Regions from separate parts of the Homo sapiens genome. Here region 2 is linked to region 1. Evidence: fine-mapped expression QTL. A gene starts in region 1. The other region holds a variant in brackets. All regions are shown on one strand. Distances are from middle to middle.

What was found. PIP is the estimated chance that this variant, and not a neighbour inherited with it, causes the effect. A credible set is the group of variants that fine-mapping cannot tell apart.
Region 2: its variant is the best candidate, but not a certain one, in a credible set for the expression of B4GAT1 in visceral fat (GTEx, PIP 0.64).

Annotation. Positions count from the first base shown.
Region 1 is chr11:66,343,895-66,352,222 of GRCh38, reverse strand. It overlaps B4GAT1 (beta-1,4-glucuronyltransferase 1), which reads left to right and starts at 4,594. Exons shown (of 2, transcript NM_006876.3): 1 at 4,594-5,733; 2 at 5,983-6,849. The coding sequence starts at 4,678. The coding sequence ends at 6,174. It overlaps BRMS1 (BRMS1 transcriptional repressor and anoikis regulator), which reads left to right and starts at 7,119. Exons shown (of 10, transcript NM_015399.4): 1 at 7,119-7,251. It overlaps B4GAT1-DT (B4GAT1 divergent transcript), which reads right to left and starts at 4,232. Exons shown (of 2, transcript NR_135761.1): 1 at 4,153-4,232. It overlaps TRS-GCT3-1 (tRNA-Ser (anticodon GCT) 3-1), which reads right to left and starts at 4,103; the gene lies at 4,022-4,103. RefSeq lists enhancers at 3,434-3,934, 6,944-7,373, 6,829-7,379 and a silencer at 3,961-4,550.
Region 2 is chr11:66,390,105-66,398,432 of GRCh38, reverse strand. It overlaps the pseudogene BRD9P1 and the pseudogene RNU1-84P. Among named protein-coding and RNA genes, the nearest start is that of SLC29A2, 23 kb to the right of the region's middle. The variant C/T (reference allele first, on the strand shown) is at 4,441.

The DNA of each region.
Region 1 (8,328 bases):
CATACAAAAATCAATCAGTGTGGCCGGGCACGGTGGCTCACCCTGTAATCCCAGCACTTTGGGAGGCTGAAGCAGGTGGATCACTTGAGGTCAGGAGTTTGAGACCAGCCTAGACAACATGGTGAAATCCGTCTCTACTAAAAATACAAAAAATATTAGCTGGCTGTGGTGGTGCACACCTGTAATCCCAGCTAGTCAGGAAGCTGAGGCAGGAGAATCACTTGAACCTGGGAGGTAGAGGTTGCCATGAGCCAAGATCGCGCCACTCACTCCAACCTGGGTGACAGAGCGAGACTCCATCTCAAAAAAAAAAAAAAAAAAGAAAGGCTGGGTGTGGTGGCTCATGCCTGTAATATCAGCACTTTGGGAGACCGAGGCGGGCAGATCACTTGAGGTCAGGATTTCAAGACCAGCCTGGCGAACATGGTGAAACGGCATCTCTACTAAAAAATACAAAAATTAGCCAGGCATGATGGCGCATGCCTGTAATCCCAGCTACTCCGGAGGCTGAGGCATGAGAATAACTTGAACCCAGGACGCAGAGGTTGCCGTGAGCCAAGATCGCTCCACTGCACTCCAGCCTGGGAAACAGAGCAAGAACGTCTCAAAAAAAGAAAAAGAAAATCAATCAATGTAATACACCACATTAATAGAATGAAGAGGAAACACCAAGTGATCACCTCAATTTATGAACAAAAAGCAAGTGACAAAATCCAACACGCTTTCAAGATAAAAAGCATGTGACAAAGTCCAACACTCGTTCAAGATAAAAAGCATGTGACAAAGTCCAACACTCGTTCAAGATAAAAATGCTGAATAAACAAGGAATAGGTGGAAACTTCCTTCACCTGATAAAGGGCATTTATGAAAAATCCACAAATAACATCATACTTAATGGCGAAAGACCTAAAGCCTTCCCCCAAAGATCAGGAACAAGAGAAGGATACGTGGTTTCACCGTTTCATCTCCTCAACATTGTACTAGAAGTTCTAGCTAGAGCAATTTGGCAAGAAATGAACTTCTGCACTGGGGTGGGAAAAAAAATGGCAAGAAAAAGAAACAAAAGTTAACCAAACTGAAAAAGAGGTAAAACTATTCATAGTCACAGATGACATAATATATACATATATAGAAAATCCTAAGGAATACATGCATACACACAGAGACACACACACACACACACACAGACACGTACACACATACACAAACTTTTAGAGCTAATAAAGTCAGCAAAGTTGCAGAATTCAAGATTAACACACAATAGCCTGGCTCAGTGGCTCGTGCCCGTAATCCAAGCACTTTGGGAGGCTGAGGTGGGTGGATCACTCGAGGTCAAGAGTTCAAGACCAGCTTGGCCAACATGGTGAAACCCTGTCTCTACTAAAAATATAAAAATTAACTGGGTGTGGTGGCGCACGCCTGTAGTCCCAGCTACTAGAGAGGCTGAGGCAGGAGAATCACTTGAACCTAAGAGGCGGAGGTTGCAATGAGGTGAGATCACTCCACTGCACTCCAGCCTGGGAGACAGAGTGAGACTCTGCCTCAAAAAAAAAAAAAAAAAGTTAACACACAAAATTCTGGTTGGGCACAGTGGCTCATGCCTGTAATCCTACCACTTTGTGACGCTGAGGCAGGTGGATCACCTGAGGTCAGGAGTTTGAAACCAGCCTAGCCAACATGGCAAAACCCCGTCTCTACTAAAAATACAAAAATTAGCCGGGTGTGGTGGCATGCACCTGTAGTCCCAGCTACTCGGGAGGTTGAAGCTGGAGAATTGCTTGAACCCGGGGGGCAGACGTTGCAGTCAGCCAAGATCGCGCCACTTCACTCGAGCCTGGGTGAAAGGGCGAAACTCCATCTCAAAACAACAACAACAACAACAAAAATTCAGTTATATTTCTATACACTAACAATGAACAACGTGAAAAGGAAATTAAGAAAACAACTCCATTTACAATAGGATACAAAAGAATAAAATACCTAGGAAAAAATTAACCCAGGAAGTAAAAAACTTGTCCACTGAAAATACAAACACTGGCTGAGCTTGGTAGCTCACTCCTGTAATCCCAGCACTTTGGGAGGCCGAGGTGGGCAGATCACCTGAGGTCGGGAGTTCGAGACCAGCCTGACTAACATGGAGAAACCCTAGTCTACTAAAAATACAAAATTAGCTGGGCATGGTGGTACATGCCTGTAATCCCAGCTACTCCGGAGGCTGAGGCAGGAGAATCACTTGAACCCAGGAGGCAGAGGTTGCAGTGAGCCGAGATTGAGCCATTGCACTCCAGCCTGGGCAACAAGAGCGAAACTCTGTCTCAAAATAATAATAATAATAATAGGGCTGGGCGCAGTGGCTCACACCTGTAATCCCAACACTTTGGGAGGCCAAGGTGAGTGGATCACCTGAAGTTAGGAGTTCGAGACCAGCCTGGCTAACATGATGAAACCCCATCTCTACTAAAAAATAATACAAAAAATTAGCCAGGCATGGTGGTGCACTCCTGTAATCCCAGCTACTCAGGAGGCTGAGGCAGGAGAATCACTTGAACCTAGGAGGCAAGGTTGCAGTGAGCCAAGATCGCGTCATTGCACTCCAGCCTGAGCAAGAAGAACAAAATTCTGTCTCAAATAATAATAATAATAATAAATAAAAAATAAAACACTGAGGAGGTCAAAGAAAATCCACATGGCAGCATGTCTGACTTCTGAGCCTCCAGTCTATAAGGCCTGTGCTGAAAGGATCTGCACTTACTTTTCTCCTCTTTACAGCCAAGGTCACCAGTGGAAACTCTCAAGGACAATACCTGTGTCTCCTCCAAGGCCCATCCCTCGTGCCTAACACAGTTCCTGGCAGAGACCAGGTACTCAGTGTGTGTTTTTGCTCTGGGCTGCAAAATAAAGGTTTTCTGATCACTCTTCAACTCAACAACCTTGGCACCCTACTGCCTGTGGAATAGTGGGACAAACACTTTATCCTTATTTGAAGCCCTGCCCAGTCTGTCCTGACATCCCAAGATTCAGAGCACTCTGCCCTATAGGGGCCTCCCTGGCTCAGCCTAAAAAGTTGAGTAATATACGGTAATTGATTTAGCAGTGGCAGTGTCTGCCCTTCCCACGGCCTCTCCTGTTCTAAAGAGTCCACAGATGAATTAATCCACAAATACTTATTAAGAGTATAGTGGCCTGATATTGGAATGTTCAAAGCCTTCTGCTTAAGAGTTTGTGTGCGGCCGGGCGCGGTGGCTCACACCTGTAATCCCAGCACTTTGGGAGGCCGAGGTGGGCGGATCAGGAGGTCAGGAGATCCGAGACCATCCTGGCTAACACGGTGAAACTCCGTCTCTGCTAAAAATACAAAAAATTAGCCGGGCGTGCTGCATGCGCTAGTAGTCCCAGCTACTCGGGGCTGAGGCAGGAGAATCGCTTGAACCTGGAAGGCAGAGGTTGCAGTGAGCCGAGATCGCGCCACTGCGCTCCAGCCTGGGCGACAGAGCGAGAATCCGCCTCAAAAAAAAAAAAAAAAAAAAAAAAAGAGATTGTGTGTGTTGGGGAGCAGGGCATGTGGACACAAGGTCTCCGCCCTAGGAGAAGTGCTGGAGAGTAGGACAAGTACCACTACTTCGGACGGGGAGGGCGATGCCTCCAATGGGGGGCTTCCCTGATTCCTGCAGATCATACGTTGGCCCCCAACTTCACACTGGCCAGAATCCCGGTTCTAGTCTTTTCCGTGCCACCAACCCCTGGGCCCTCTTTCTAGAAGGAAAGAAAACACCTTTGGCCTCTGCCCAGAGCTACAGACACCTGAAGTAGGAGCAGGCAGGAGATGCGTGGTGGATAAAGACCAGAGAGACTTGGGATCGAATTCCACTCTCACCCCCAGTTCAGTTTTCTTCAGCTTGCTGCTCCACAGGCAGGATGTGAAAATTTAGATGCCTCACCCCTCGCACCTCCAGCTTGCTGCTCCAAATAGGCAGGATGTGAAAATGTAGATGCTTCCCCCCCAACCTCTATAAAACAGGGCCGACGAGGATGGGATTCGAACCCACGCGTGCAAAGCACAATGGATTAGCAGTCCATCGCCTTAACCACTCGGCCACCTCGTCCTACGTGACAGGTTTGTCCACATTCACTTATCTCTCATCTACTCCGCACCTTCCAAGCACTACCACGTAAGTCGCAACGCAGACCTCTTCGGACACAGGGAAAGAAGAAGCCGCGGAAGGAAGGGAGCGTTTTGATTTCCTTTCTGCTGAGCCCGCGCCATCCTTTACCACGCTGCAGCCGAGCTCTGCCGCGGTTTCCCTCCGAGTCCGGCCGAGCGCGCCGCGCGTTCAGGGCGCGCCCGGTCCAGGGTGCGCGCGCCGGCGGGGAGGGAGAGGAGTGCGTCCCGGGAAGCCGGCGGGGCCCGGGCGGGCGGGCGTCTGCACGGCGCGCGGCCGAGCGGCGGGGCCGTGGCTCCTCCTCCCTCGTAGGGGGCGAGCCGGCGCGCCGGGGGCTGGGGGCGGTGGCGGGCGGCGGGCGGCGGGCGGCGGGCGGCGGGCGGGGCGGCGCTCGGGGCTCGGCTGGCCTCGGCTCGCCTCGGCTGCGCTCGGCAGGCTGCGGTAAATCCGGGCTTGCGGCCGCTGGCGTAGTCTGTGGCCGGGTGGTCGTTGCTGCGCGCCCCGAGCCCCGAGAGCCATGCAGATGTCCTACGCCATCCGGTGCGCCTTCTACCAGCTGCTGCTGGCCGCGCTCATGCTGGTGGCGATGCTGCAGCTGCTCTACCTGTCGCTGCTGTCCGGACTGCACGGGCAGGAGGAGCAAGACCAATATTTTGAGTTCTTTCCCCCGTCCCCACGGTCCGTGGACCAGGTCAAGGCGCAGCTCCGCACCGCGCTGGCCTCTGGAGGCGTCCTGGACGCTAGCGGCGATTACCGCGTCTACAGGGGCCTGCTGAAGACCACCATGGACCCCAACGATGTGATCCTGGCCACGCACGCCAGCGTGGACAACCTGCTGCACCTGTCGGGTCTGCTGGAGCGCTGGGAGGGCCCGCTGTCCGTGTCGGTGTTCGCGGCCACCAAGGAGGAGGCGCAGCTGGCCACGGTGCTGGCCTACGCGCTGAGCAGCCACTGCCCCGACATGCGCGCCAGGGTCGCCATGCACCTCGTGTGCCCCTCGCGTTACGAGGCAGCCGTGCCCGACCCCCGGGAGCCGGGGGAGTTTGCCCTGCTGCGGTCCTGCCAGGAGGTCTTTGACAAGCTAGCCAGGGTGGCCCAGCCCGGGATTAATTATGCGCTGGGCACCAATGTCTCCTACCCCAATAACCTGCTGAGGAATCTGGCTCGTGAGGGGGCCAACTATGCCCTGGTGATCGATGTGGACATGGTGCCCAGCGAGGGGCTGTGGAGAGGCCTGCGGGAAATGCTGGATCAGAGCAACCAGTGGGGAGGCACCGCGCTGGTGGTGCCTGCCTTCGAAATCCGAAGAGCCCGCCGCATGCCCATGAACAAAAACGAGCTGGTGCAGCTCTACCAGGTTGGCGAGGTGCGGCCCTTCTATTATGGGTTGTGCACCCCCTGCCAGGCACCCACCAACTATTCCCGCTGGGTCAACCTGCCGGAAGAGAGCTTGCTGCGGCCCGCCTACGTGGTACCTTGGCAGGACCCCTGGGAGCCATTCTACGTGGCAGGAGGCAAGGTGCCCACCTTCGACGAGCGCTTTCGGCAGTACGGCTTCAACCGAATCAGCCAGGTGCTCATAAGGGAGAGGGCAGGGGTAATGGGGCAGGAGGGGTGGTGGGATCAGGGAGTTATGAGGAGTGGCCCTGGATGGAAAGGAGGCAATGAAGCAGGAGGGATCATAGTTCAGGAGGTGGGTGGATGGTGTGGAAGATCCAGGATACTTCCAGAGGGGTGAGGACGCTGGACTGTGGCTTTAGGGAAGTCAGTCTCAGGCCTGTCAATGTCATCAAACTTTGCTAACCTGTCTTTCCTCCTGCAGGCCTGCGAGCTGCATGTGGCGGGGTTTGATTTTGAGGTCCTGAACGAAGGTTTCTTGGTTCATAAGGGCTTCAAAGAAGCGTTGAAGTTCCATCCCCAAAAGGAGGCTGAAAATCAGCACAATAAGATCCTATATCGCCAGTTCAAACAGGAGTTGAAGGCCAAGTACCCCAACTCTCCCCGACGCTGCTGAGCCCTTCCCTCCCCTAATCTGAGAAGTCAGCCTCTTGGCTCCTCAGGCCACCATTTAGGCCTGACTGGGGTAAGAAATGTCGCTCCACTTTACAGAGGTAGCTGTGGTGTTGAAACACTGGACTTGGATATGGGGTGCTGGGATCGATTCCTAGCTTTACCACTAACTAGCTGTGTGGCCTTGAGTAAATCCCGTTACCTCTCTGAGCCTCGGTTACCCTGTCTGTAAAAAGGGAGGTGAGAATACCTACCTCACGGAACTGTTGGGAGGCTCAGATGAGATGCTATATGTGAAAACATTCTGTAAGCTTCGTACAAATGTGAAGTATTAATATTATCGCAGTATTATTGTTGTTATTATTATTGTTATTATTAACAATCTTGGGTGGGTAGTAGGAGAGCAAAAAGTATGAATGGGATGGAGCTAAGAAGTCTGAATACTTAATGAAATGGACTTTTTGGAAAGAAATCAGATGAAGGCATAAAATTTAGTTCTTAGCTCTTGAACAGAAGCCTAAAATTCCTGGTTCTCTCAGGGCTTCGCCTTCAAGGGTTCTGGAGGAGGGAAGGGTCTGCAGGTTCCATGGGTGACAGCCTGAGATCTGTCCCTTCAACGGGCTGGGCTGGGTATGTGCCTACCGATGACAATGTGTAAATAAATGCGTGTTCACACCCACAGCTGGCTCCGTTACTCTCCTGAGCTGGGGGTGGGGGGATCGGGGCCGGCTTCTCCCCTTGCACGCCGTGGGGAGATGGCCGCGGACGAAGGGCACCGTCTGCAAAGCACTGAACCATCAGGGCCTTCCCTGCAGGCCGAAGGCCTGCGCGAATGTCGGCCAGTTACTATGGAGACCGGCCCGCGGTATCCCAGCATGCCTCGGGACCAAACTGTCCAACTGTGAGCATCCCCGACGGTCGCCTCCTGATGACGCACACGGAAGCACCGATAGGCTCTGCCTCCCGAAGAAAAGGGAGCCGCGCAGCGCCTACGGGAGTCCGGCGGCAGCAGCCGGTACCGGCAACCACGGGCAGCTCTCAGGGAATCTCCGTCGTGAGGCCAGAGGCTCCAGTCCCCGCGGTGCGTATCGTCATGCATGGCTTTTGGTTCGCCCTCTCCGGTTAGTCGAGCAGGGCCGGCACAACCTCCTCCTCCGAGGCCGAAGCAGAGATTTAACCGGCCTGACGCGTGCTGGGCTGCGGGCGAGCCAGTGATATTCCGGCCCGCTCCGGCGCATCTAGAAGGGAGCGGGAGGCCCCCTGGGCGCTGCGGAGAAGCTGGATTGACCTCTGCGAGAGTGGGGAGGGTCTGCCTTCCCTAGGGGCCTGCCCCGGAGGAGCTGCCATTCTGAAAAGATAAATTGCCTGTGTACAGCGCTTTACAGTGTGCTTTTCCATCCCTTACCACCTGTGAGCTCCTCAACACTCAGAGCAGGAATGGTTATCCGCTTTTTGCACCCGGGGTAAGGTGGGAAGGTTGTGACTTAACTCACTCATAATCAGAACCAGGGGGAGGAAAGAAAGGCTTCTGGAAGAGATAGACTTAAGCTGCATCTTACAAAGTGAATATACTAACAGTGAAGAGGCATTGCAAATGTTGGGAACTGAGGCTTGATAACGGGAAGATGAAGCTGGTTTAGAGAACCGAGCCTTTCAAGTCAGGTGCAGGTCATTAGTGAAATTGTTGAGGAATATGACTAAACACTCACCTAGGCCAGGCTTACTATACACAACTTGAACTGGTGTCAAGGAAAGCTTGCTACCATTACAGGGACCTGGGACTACCGAAAAGTAAAAACTAATGTCTGTCTCACAAAAAATTTTTTTGTTAAATTTGTATTTGCAAATCCTCCAGTCATCAAGTGAACCAGCACTGTGCTAGGTAAATAAGTTACATGTGCAGCCCCTGCCCTAGTGAGGCTCATAGACTGATTGCGGGGACAGATATGAGAACAGGCAAATAGATATAAACAAAGCTTCCTGGAGGGAGTGGTGTCTGCACTGTTCTAAAGGACTACAAAGCAGTGTCCAGAGAAGTTGGAAGAACACAATAAAATAGAAGCCTGCAGGAGGTTGAGAGATTATCTGCTGAGAGGACTGTTTTCTTCTTCTTAGGTGATCTCTTGGCAGTACTTGGCACTATCAGTGCAATTACTCC
Region 2 (8,328 bases), 46 kb before region 1:
ATATCCTGGTAGTGATATTTTACTATAGTTTTTTGTTTTGTTTTGTTTTTGAGACAGCGTCTCGCTCTGTCGCCCAGGCTCGGAGTGCAGTGGCACGATCTTGTCTCACTGCAGCCTCCGCCTCCTGGGTTCAAGCAATTCTCCTGCCTCAGCCTCCAGAGTAGCTACTGGGACTACAGGCGCGCGCCACCATGCCCGGCTAAATTTTGTATTTTTAATGGAGACGGGGTTTCACCATGTTGGCCAGGCTGGTCTCGATCTCCCGACCTCATGATCCACCCGCCTCGGCCTCTTAAAGCTCTGGGATTACAGGCGTGAGCCACCGCGGCCGGCTTCGGCCTCTCAAAGTGCTGGGATTACAGGCGTGAGCCACTGCGCCCGGCCTCGGCCTCTCAAACTCTGGATTACAGGCATGAGCCACAGCGCCCGGCCTCGGCCTCTCGAAGCTCTGGGATTACAGGTGTGAGCCACCGTGCCCGGCCAATATTGTACTATAGTTTTGCAAGATATTATCAATGGGGAAAACTGGGTAAAGGATCGCTCTGTATTATTTCTTTGAACTGCATGTACATCCACAATTATCCCAAAATAAAAAGTTTAACGGCCAGGCGTGGTGGCTCACGCCTGTAATCCCAGCAGTTTGTGAGGCCGAGGCAGGTGGATCACTTGAGGTCAGGAGTTCAAAACCAGCCTGATCAACATGGCGAAACCCCGTCTGAACTAAAATACAAAAATTAGCCGGGTGTGGTGGTGGGCGCCTGTAATCCCAGCTACTTGGGAGGCTGAGGCAGGAGAATTGCTTGAACCCAGGAGGCGGAGGTTGCAGCAAGCTGAGATTGTGCCACTGAACTCCAGTCTGGGCAACAGAGTGAGACTCTGTCTCAAAAAAAAAAAAGTTTAACTAAAAAAAAAAAAAAAAAAAAAAAGACAGGGAGTCCAGTCACAGTGATTCACACCTAGAATCCTAGCACTTTGGAAGGACAAGGTGGGAGGATCGCTTGAGCCCAGGCGTTCAAGACCAGCCTGAGCAACATAGTGAGAACTCATCTCCACAAAAAATTTAAAAATTAACCAGGTGTGGCAGCGTGTACATGGAGTCCCAGCCACTCAGGAGGTTTGGGCTGGAGGATTGCTGGAGCCCAGGAGGTTGAGGCTACAGTGAACTATGATGTGCCACTGCACTCCAGCCTGGGTGACAGAGTGAAATCTTGTCTCAAAAACAAAAACAAAACAAAAAACAAAAAAACAGGCCAGGCACAGTTGCTCACACCTGTAATTCCAGCACTTTGGGAGGCCGAGGCATGAAGATCATTTGAGGTCAGGAGTTCGAAACCAGTCTGACCAACATGGTGAAACCTTGTCTCTACTAAAATACAAAAATTAGCTGGGTGTGGTGGCAGGCACCTGTAATCTCAGCTACTCGGGAGCTTGAGGCAGGAGAATCTCTTGAACCCAGGAGGCGGAGGTTGCAGTGAGCTGAGATCATGCCACTGCACTCCAGCCTGGGCAACAGAGTGAGACTCTCTCAAAAAAAAAAGAAGAAGAAAGAAAAAAAAAGAAAACAATAAAACCCCACCAAAACCAAATAAAACCAACAAAACACAGGGCACGTGCTCCAATTCTCCCATACAGCCTTTCCCTGAGCTCCATACAGTTTCTCCATCTGGTGTCATTGGCTCCACAGAGTAATAAGAGACAAGAAGAGGATTGCTTAGACTGCAGCCTGGTTTGGCTGGAGAATCTTTTCTCAGTCTGGGCCACACTGTAAACCATAAGGTTGGCTGTAACAAATTACCACAAACTTAGTGACTTAACAAACTTTTTTTTTTTTTTTGAGATAGGGTCTTACTCTGTTGCCCAGGCTGGAGTACAGTGGCACAATCTAGGCTCATTGCAGCCTCGACCTCCCAGGCTCAGGCAATCCTCCCACCTCAGCCTCCTAAATAGCAGGGACCACAGGCATCCACCACCATGCCTGGTCTTTAAACTGGTGATTTTAACCTTGAGTGCTTGGTTAAGGCAGTGTTTGCTCTGAGTTCCTCCACTGCAAAATAACTACGTTTCTCTTTGCAATTAATAAATATATTTTGAGGAGCAGCTGATGCTTTTAACTACCCTGGAGAGTTTAAAGAAAATGAAAAGCTCTGGCCAGGCACGGTGGCTCACACCTGTAATCTCAGCACTTTGGAAGGCCTAGGGGGGCAGATCACAAGATCAAGAGATCAAGAGATCAAGACCAGCCTGGCCAACATGGCGAAACCCCGTCTCTACTAAAAATACAAAAATTAGCTGAGTGTGGTGGCGCACCTGTAGTCCCAGCTACTCGGGAGGCTGAGGCAAGAGAATCGCTTGAAACCGGGAGGCAGAGGTTGCAGTGAGCCAAGATCACGCCACTGCACTCCAGCCTGGCAACAGAGTGAGACTCCATCTCAAAAAAAAAGAAAGAAAAGCTCAGGTCATTAAATGCTTGGCTCAAGACACAGAGCACCAAGTACTTCGCATGCCTGCCGTATGAGAATTTCTTACCCCTCTAACCACAGGGCTGCTGCAGCTGCAAATCAAAGGTATAATTAACAAATAAGTTAAATTCATACTATTTCCAAGTCTTTTCTGTGAAATCTAGGGCATTGATGGGAAAGTCTGGAAACCTCAAGAATTCAAATGACAACTTTAAAAGGAATCAGATAACTCCAAGTATCATGCACCTTCAAATTATATGCCAATTGAAGTATATAATGACCTTACCAGGGGATACCAGTTTTCTTCATGCCCAGTCCCTACCTATTGATAGTATTAATTCATGTGAATAATAAGCTACACATATTTAAAGTATACAATTTGGCCAGGCGCGGTGGCTCACGCCTGTAATCCTAGCACTTTGGGAGGCCGAGGCGGGCAGATCACCTGAGGTCAGGAGTTCAAGACCAGCCTGGCCAACATGGCGAAACCCCCATCTCTACTAAAAAAAAAAAAAAAATACAAAAATTAGCCGAGCGTGGTGGTGTGCACCTGTGAACCCATCTACTCAGGAGGCTGAGGCAGGAGAATCACTTGAACCTGGGAGGCGGAGGTTGCAGTGAGCCGAGATCGTGCCACTGTACTCCAGCCTGGGCAACAGAGTCAGACTCTGTCTCAATAAATAAATAAATAAATAAATAAATAAATAAATAAATAGTACAATTTGATAAGTTTTGACGTATGTGTATACCCATGAAACTGTAACCACAATGAAGATAATGAACATATCCATTACCTTCAAAAGTTTCCTCTTGACTTTTTTTTTTTTTTTTTTGAGACAGGGTCTTGCTCCCTTTATCGGGCTGGAGTGGAGTGGTGCGATTAAAGCTCACTGAGCCTCAGACTCTCAAGCTCAAGTGATCCTCCAACCACAGCCTCCCAAATAGCTGAGACCACAGGCGTGCACCACCACACCCAGCTAATTGTTTTACTTTTCGTAGAGAGGGGTCTCACTATGTTGCTTAGGGTGGTTTCAAACTCCTGGCCTCAAGCAAGCCTCCTGCCTCTACCTCCCAAACTGCTGGAATCACAGGCATGAACCACCATGCCCAGCCTCCTCTTGACTGTTTGTAATCCTTCGTCTACCCCCTGCCCAGCCCTATCTCTAAGCAACCACTCACCTGCCTTTTGTCACTATAGATTATTTTGCATTTTCTAGTATTTTATATGAATTGGATTATACAATGCATACTATTTTTTTTGAGGGGGGAATCTGCTTCTTTCAGCATTAGTATTTCGTGATCCACCCATGCTGTGTATGTATCAATAGTTCATTACTTTTATTTATTTATGTTTTAGACAGTTTCACTCTATCACCCAGGGTGGAGTGCAGCGGCACAATCTCAGCTCACTGCAACCTCTGCCTCCTGGGCTGAAGCGATTCTTATGCCTCAGCCTCCTGAGTAGCTGAGATTACCGGCACCCACCACCATGCCCAGCTAATTTTTGTATTTTTAGTAGAGATGGGGTTTTGCCATATTGCCCAGGCTGGTCTCCAACTCCTGGGCTCAAATGATCTGCCCGCCTGGGCCTCCCAAAGTGCTAGCATTACAGGCATGAGCCACTGTGCCCGGCATCATTGCTTTTAAATTGTGAAAAGTATTCCTGTGATTTGTTTATCCCTTAACCTATTTATGGACATTGGGTTGTTTCCAGTTTTGTGCCATCACAAATAAAACTACTATGAATATTTTTGTACAAGTCCTTGTTTGGACCTATGCTTTAATTTCTTTGGAACTATACCTAGAAGTGAAACGCTGAGTCATGTGGTAGTATGTGCTTAATTTTTTCAGAAACTGCCAAATTGTTTTTCCAAAATGTACCACTTTACATTCTCATCAACAGAGTATAAGAGCTCTAGTTTCTCCTTCATAGCCAACACTCAGTATAGTCAGTCTTTTTAATTTCAGTCATTCTAATAGG[C/T]GAGTAAGTGGTAGTTCATTGCATTATTTAAAAAAAGAAATTTGACACAGTAAGCCAGGCATGGTGGCTCCCGCCTGTAATCCTGGCACTTTGGGAGGCTGAGGCAGGTGGATCACGAGGTCAGGAGTTCGAGATCAGCCTGGCCAATGTGGTGAAACCCTGTCTCTACTAAAGATACAAAAAATTAGCCAGGTGTGGTGGTGCGCACCTGTAATCCCAGCTACTCAGGAGACTGAGGCAGGAGAATCGCTTGAACCTGGGAGGTGGAGGTTGCAGTGAGCCGAGATCGCATCACTGCATTCCACCCTGGGCGACAGGACAAGTCTCCATCTCAAAAAAAAAATAGAAAAGTAAAGAAAAGAAAAAAAAGAAAGTTGACACAGGAGAAAGCGCAAATGCAGTCCCCCACTGCCACAAACAACGCAGTTGAGTTTCCCACGTTGAGGGAAATTGCAAGGGTTAGCACACCTGGAGTGCAATGGATGCACCTCACCCTGGGAAAACCACCTATGTGATCATGGCATCTCCCCTGCCAGGTAAGTCATTGTGGTTTAAATTTGCATTTCTCTAATGACCAATGACATTGAGCATATTTTATTTGCTAACTTATCATCTATATACCTTCCTTGGTATGGTGTCCGTTCACATCATCTCGTTTTTTTGTTGTTGTTTTATTTTGTTTTTTGAGACAGAGTCTCACTCTGTCAACAGGCTGGAGTGCAGTGGTGTGATCTTAGCTCACTGAAACCTCCGCCTCCCAGGTTCAAGTGATTCTCCTGCCTCAGCCTCCCAAATAGCTGGGACTACAGGCACGCACCACCACACCCTGCTAATTTTTTGTATTTTTAGCAGAGACGGGGTTTCACCCTGCTGGCCAGGCTGGTCTCGAGCTCCTGACCTCAAGTGTTCCACCAGCCTCAGCCTCCCAAAATGCTGGGATTACAGGTATGAGCCACCGCACCCAGCCAATCATCTCCATTTAAAAATGAGGTTGTCTGAATTATTATTACTTAGTTATATGAGTTATTTTAATATATTCTAGGTCCAAGTCCTTTGTCAGATATATGTTTTGCAAATATTTTCTCCCAGTCTGTGGCTTGTCTTTTTATATTCATAACAGTGTTTTTTAAAGAGCTAAAGTTTTTGTTTTTGTTTTTGTTTGAGACGGAGTCTCGCTCTGTCGCCCAAGCTGAAGTGCGGTGGCGCGATCTCGGCTCGCTGTAACCTCAGCCTCCCGGGTTCAAGCGATTCTCCTGCCTCAGCCTCCTGAGTAGCTGGGAATACGGGCTCATGCCACCAAGTGCGGCTAATTTTTTTGTATTTTTAGTAGAGACAGGGTTTCACCATGTTAGCCAGGATGGTCTCGATCTCCTGACCTCGTGATCTGCCCGCCTCGACCTCCCAAAGTGCTGGGATTACAGGCGTGAGCCACCGTGCCCGGCCAAGAGTTAAAGTTTTTAATTTTGGTGAATTCCAATTTATAATGTTTTCTTTTATGGATCATGCTTTTTGGTGTCATAACTAAGAAAATGGTCCCTTAACTAGATCAAAAATATTTTCTCCTATGTTTTCTCTTAGAAGTATCATTTGTAGGCCCGGCACGGTGGCTCACGCCTGTAATCCCAGCACTTTGGGAGGCCGAGGCAGGAGGATCACGAGGTCAGGAGATCGAGACCATCCTGGCTAACATGGTGAAACCCCGTCTCTACTAAAAATACAAAAAATTAGCCAGGCGTGGTGGCAGGCTCCTGTAGTCCCAGCTACTCAGGAGGCTGAGGCAGGAGAATGGCGTGAACCCGGGATGTGGAGCTTGCAGTGAGCCGAGATTGAGCCACTGCACTCCAGCCTGGGCGACAGAGTGAGACTCTGTCTCAAGAAAGTAAAAGTATCATTCATATAGTGCTTACAAGTAGATTTGCTGTCTCATACTCCACTGTTTTGATTACAGTTCACTTGTAGTCTAGATTAGGGTTTGTATTAGAAATATGCGCTTAGAGGTTTTTTGTTTGTTTTGTTTCTTTGTTTGTTTGTTTTTAAATGGAGTCTCCCTCTGTCGCCCAGAGTATAGTGGCGTGATCTCGGCTCACTGCAGCCTCCGCCTCGTGGGTTCAAGCAATTCTCCTGCCTCAGCCTCCTGAGTAGCTGGGATTACAGGCGCCCAACACCACGCCTGGCTAATTTTTGTGTTTTTAGTAAAGGTGGGATTTCACCATGTTGGCCAGGCTGGTCTTGAACTCTTGACCTCAAGTGATCCACCCACCTTGTCCTCTCAAAGTGCTGGGATTACAGGCGTGAGCCACTGCACCCGGCGTACTTACAGTTTTAATTAGAAATGTAAAAATGTTATTTCTTCTGATTTTAAAAATAGAAAATGTTCTCGATTTGGTTTTTAATTCATTTATTTTTAATTACATAAATGACATCAGAGAACAATCTCTTTGTACAAAAAAGAACAAAAGCACATAGAATGGGGAAGCGAAAATCACTGACAAGCACTGTTGATTCAAGAAATCTGGTTTAGCTCACCATTTACGTGTTATTTTCTTGTCTTTATTTTTTTCTTTTTTTAAATTTAGAGACAGGGTCTTACTCTGTCACCTGGGCAGAATGCAGTGGCAGGATCATAGCTCTGTGCAACCCCAGACTCCTGGGCTCAAGCAATCCTCCTTTCTCATCCTCCTGAGTAGCTAGCACTACAGGTGCATGCCACCATGCCCAGGTAATTTTTAAAGTTTTTGCAGAGACAGGATCTCACTATGTTGTCCAGGCTAGTTTCAAACTCCTGGGCTCAAATGATCCTCCCTCCTCGGCCTCCCAAAGTGATGGGATTACAGGCATGAGCCATTGTGTCCAGCCTTACATATTATTTTCACGATTCATTAATCTCCATTTAAAAAAAAATGCTGTATACAGTATGCTGTTGATATATTTTTTCCGTAGCTGTTTTTCTTATTCCAGAAATAACATGAAAGTCTTTGTGTTGGCCGGACGTGGTGGCTTACGCCTGTAATCCCAGAACTTTAGGAGGCCAAGGCGGGTGGATCACCTGAGGTCAGGAGTTCAAGACCAACATGGTGAAACCCCGTCTCTACTAAAACTATAAAAATTAGCCAAGTGTGGTGGTGGGCGCCTGTAATCCCAGCTCCTTGGGAGGGTGAGACAGGAAAATCGCTTGAATCTGGGAGGCGGAGGTTGCAGTGAGCTGAGATTGCGCCATTGCACTCCAGCCTGGGCGACAGAGTGAGACTCTGTCTCAAAAAAAAAAAAGAAGAAAGAGAGAGAAAGAGAGAAAGGAAGAGAGAGAAAGAAAGAAAGAAAAGAAAGAAAGAGAGGAAGGAGGGAAGGAAGGAAGGAAGGAGGGAGGGAAGGAAGGAAGGAAGGAAGGAAGGAAGGAAGGAAGGAAGGAAGGAAGGGAGAGAAAGGAAAGAGGCCGGGCGCGGTGGCTCACGCCTGTAATCCTAGCACTTTGGGAGGCCGAGGCGGGTGGATTACGAGGTCAGAAGTTCGAGACCAGCCTGACCAACATGATGAAACCCCTATCTCTACTAAAAATACAAAAATTAGGCGGGCATGATGGTGCACACCTATAATACCAGCTACTGAGGCAGGAGAATCACCTGAACCCGGGGGACAGAGGTTGCAGTGAGCTGAGATTGTGCCACTGTACTCCAGCTTAGGCGACGGAGCAAGACTCTGTCTCAAAAAAAAAAAAAAGAGAGAGAGAGGGAGAGAAAGAAAAAGAGAAGAAAGAAAAGAAAGAAAGAAAATTCTTTTTGTCACCACAAAAACTTTGTACGTGCAAGTTTAAGTTTAAAAAATAATTCAGAGGATTCAGGCTCTGGAGACAGAAGAAATTCCTATGAGTTACGACTATGTCTTATTGTTCCC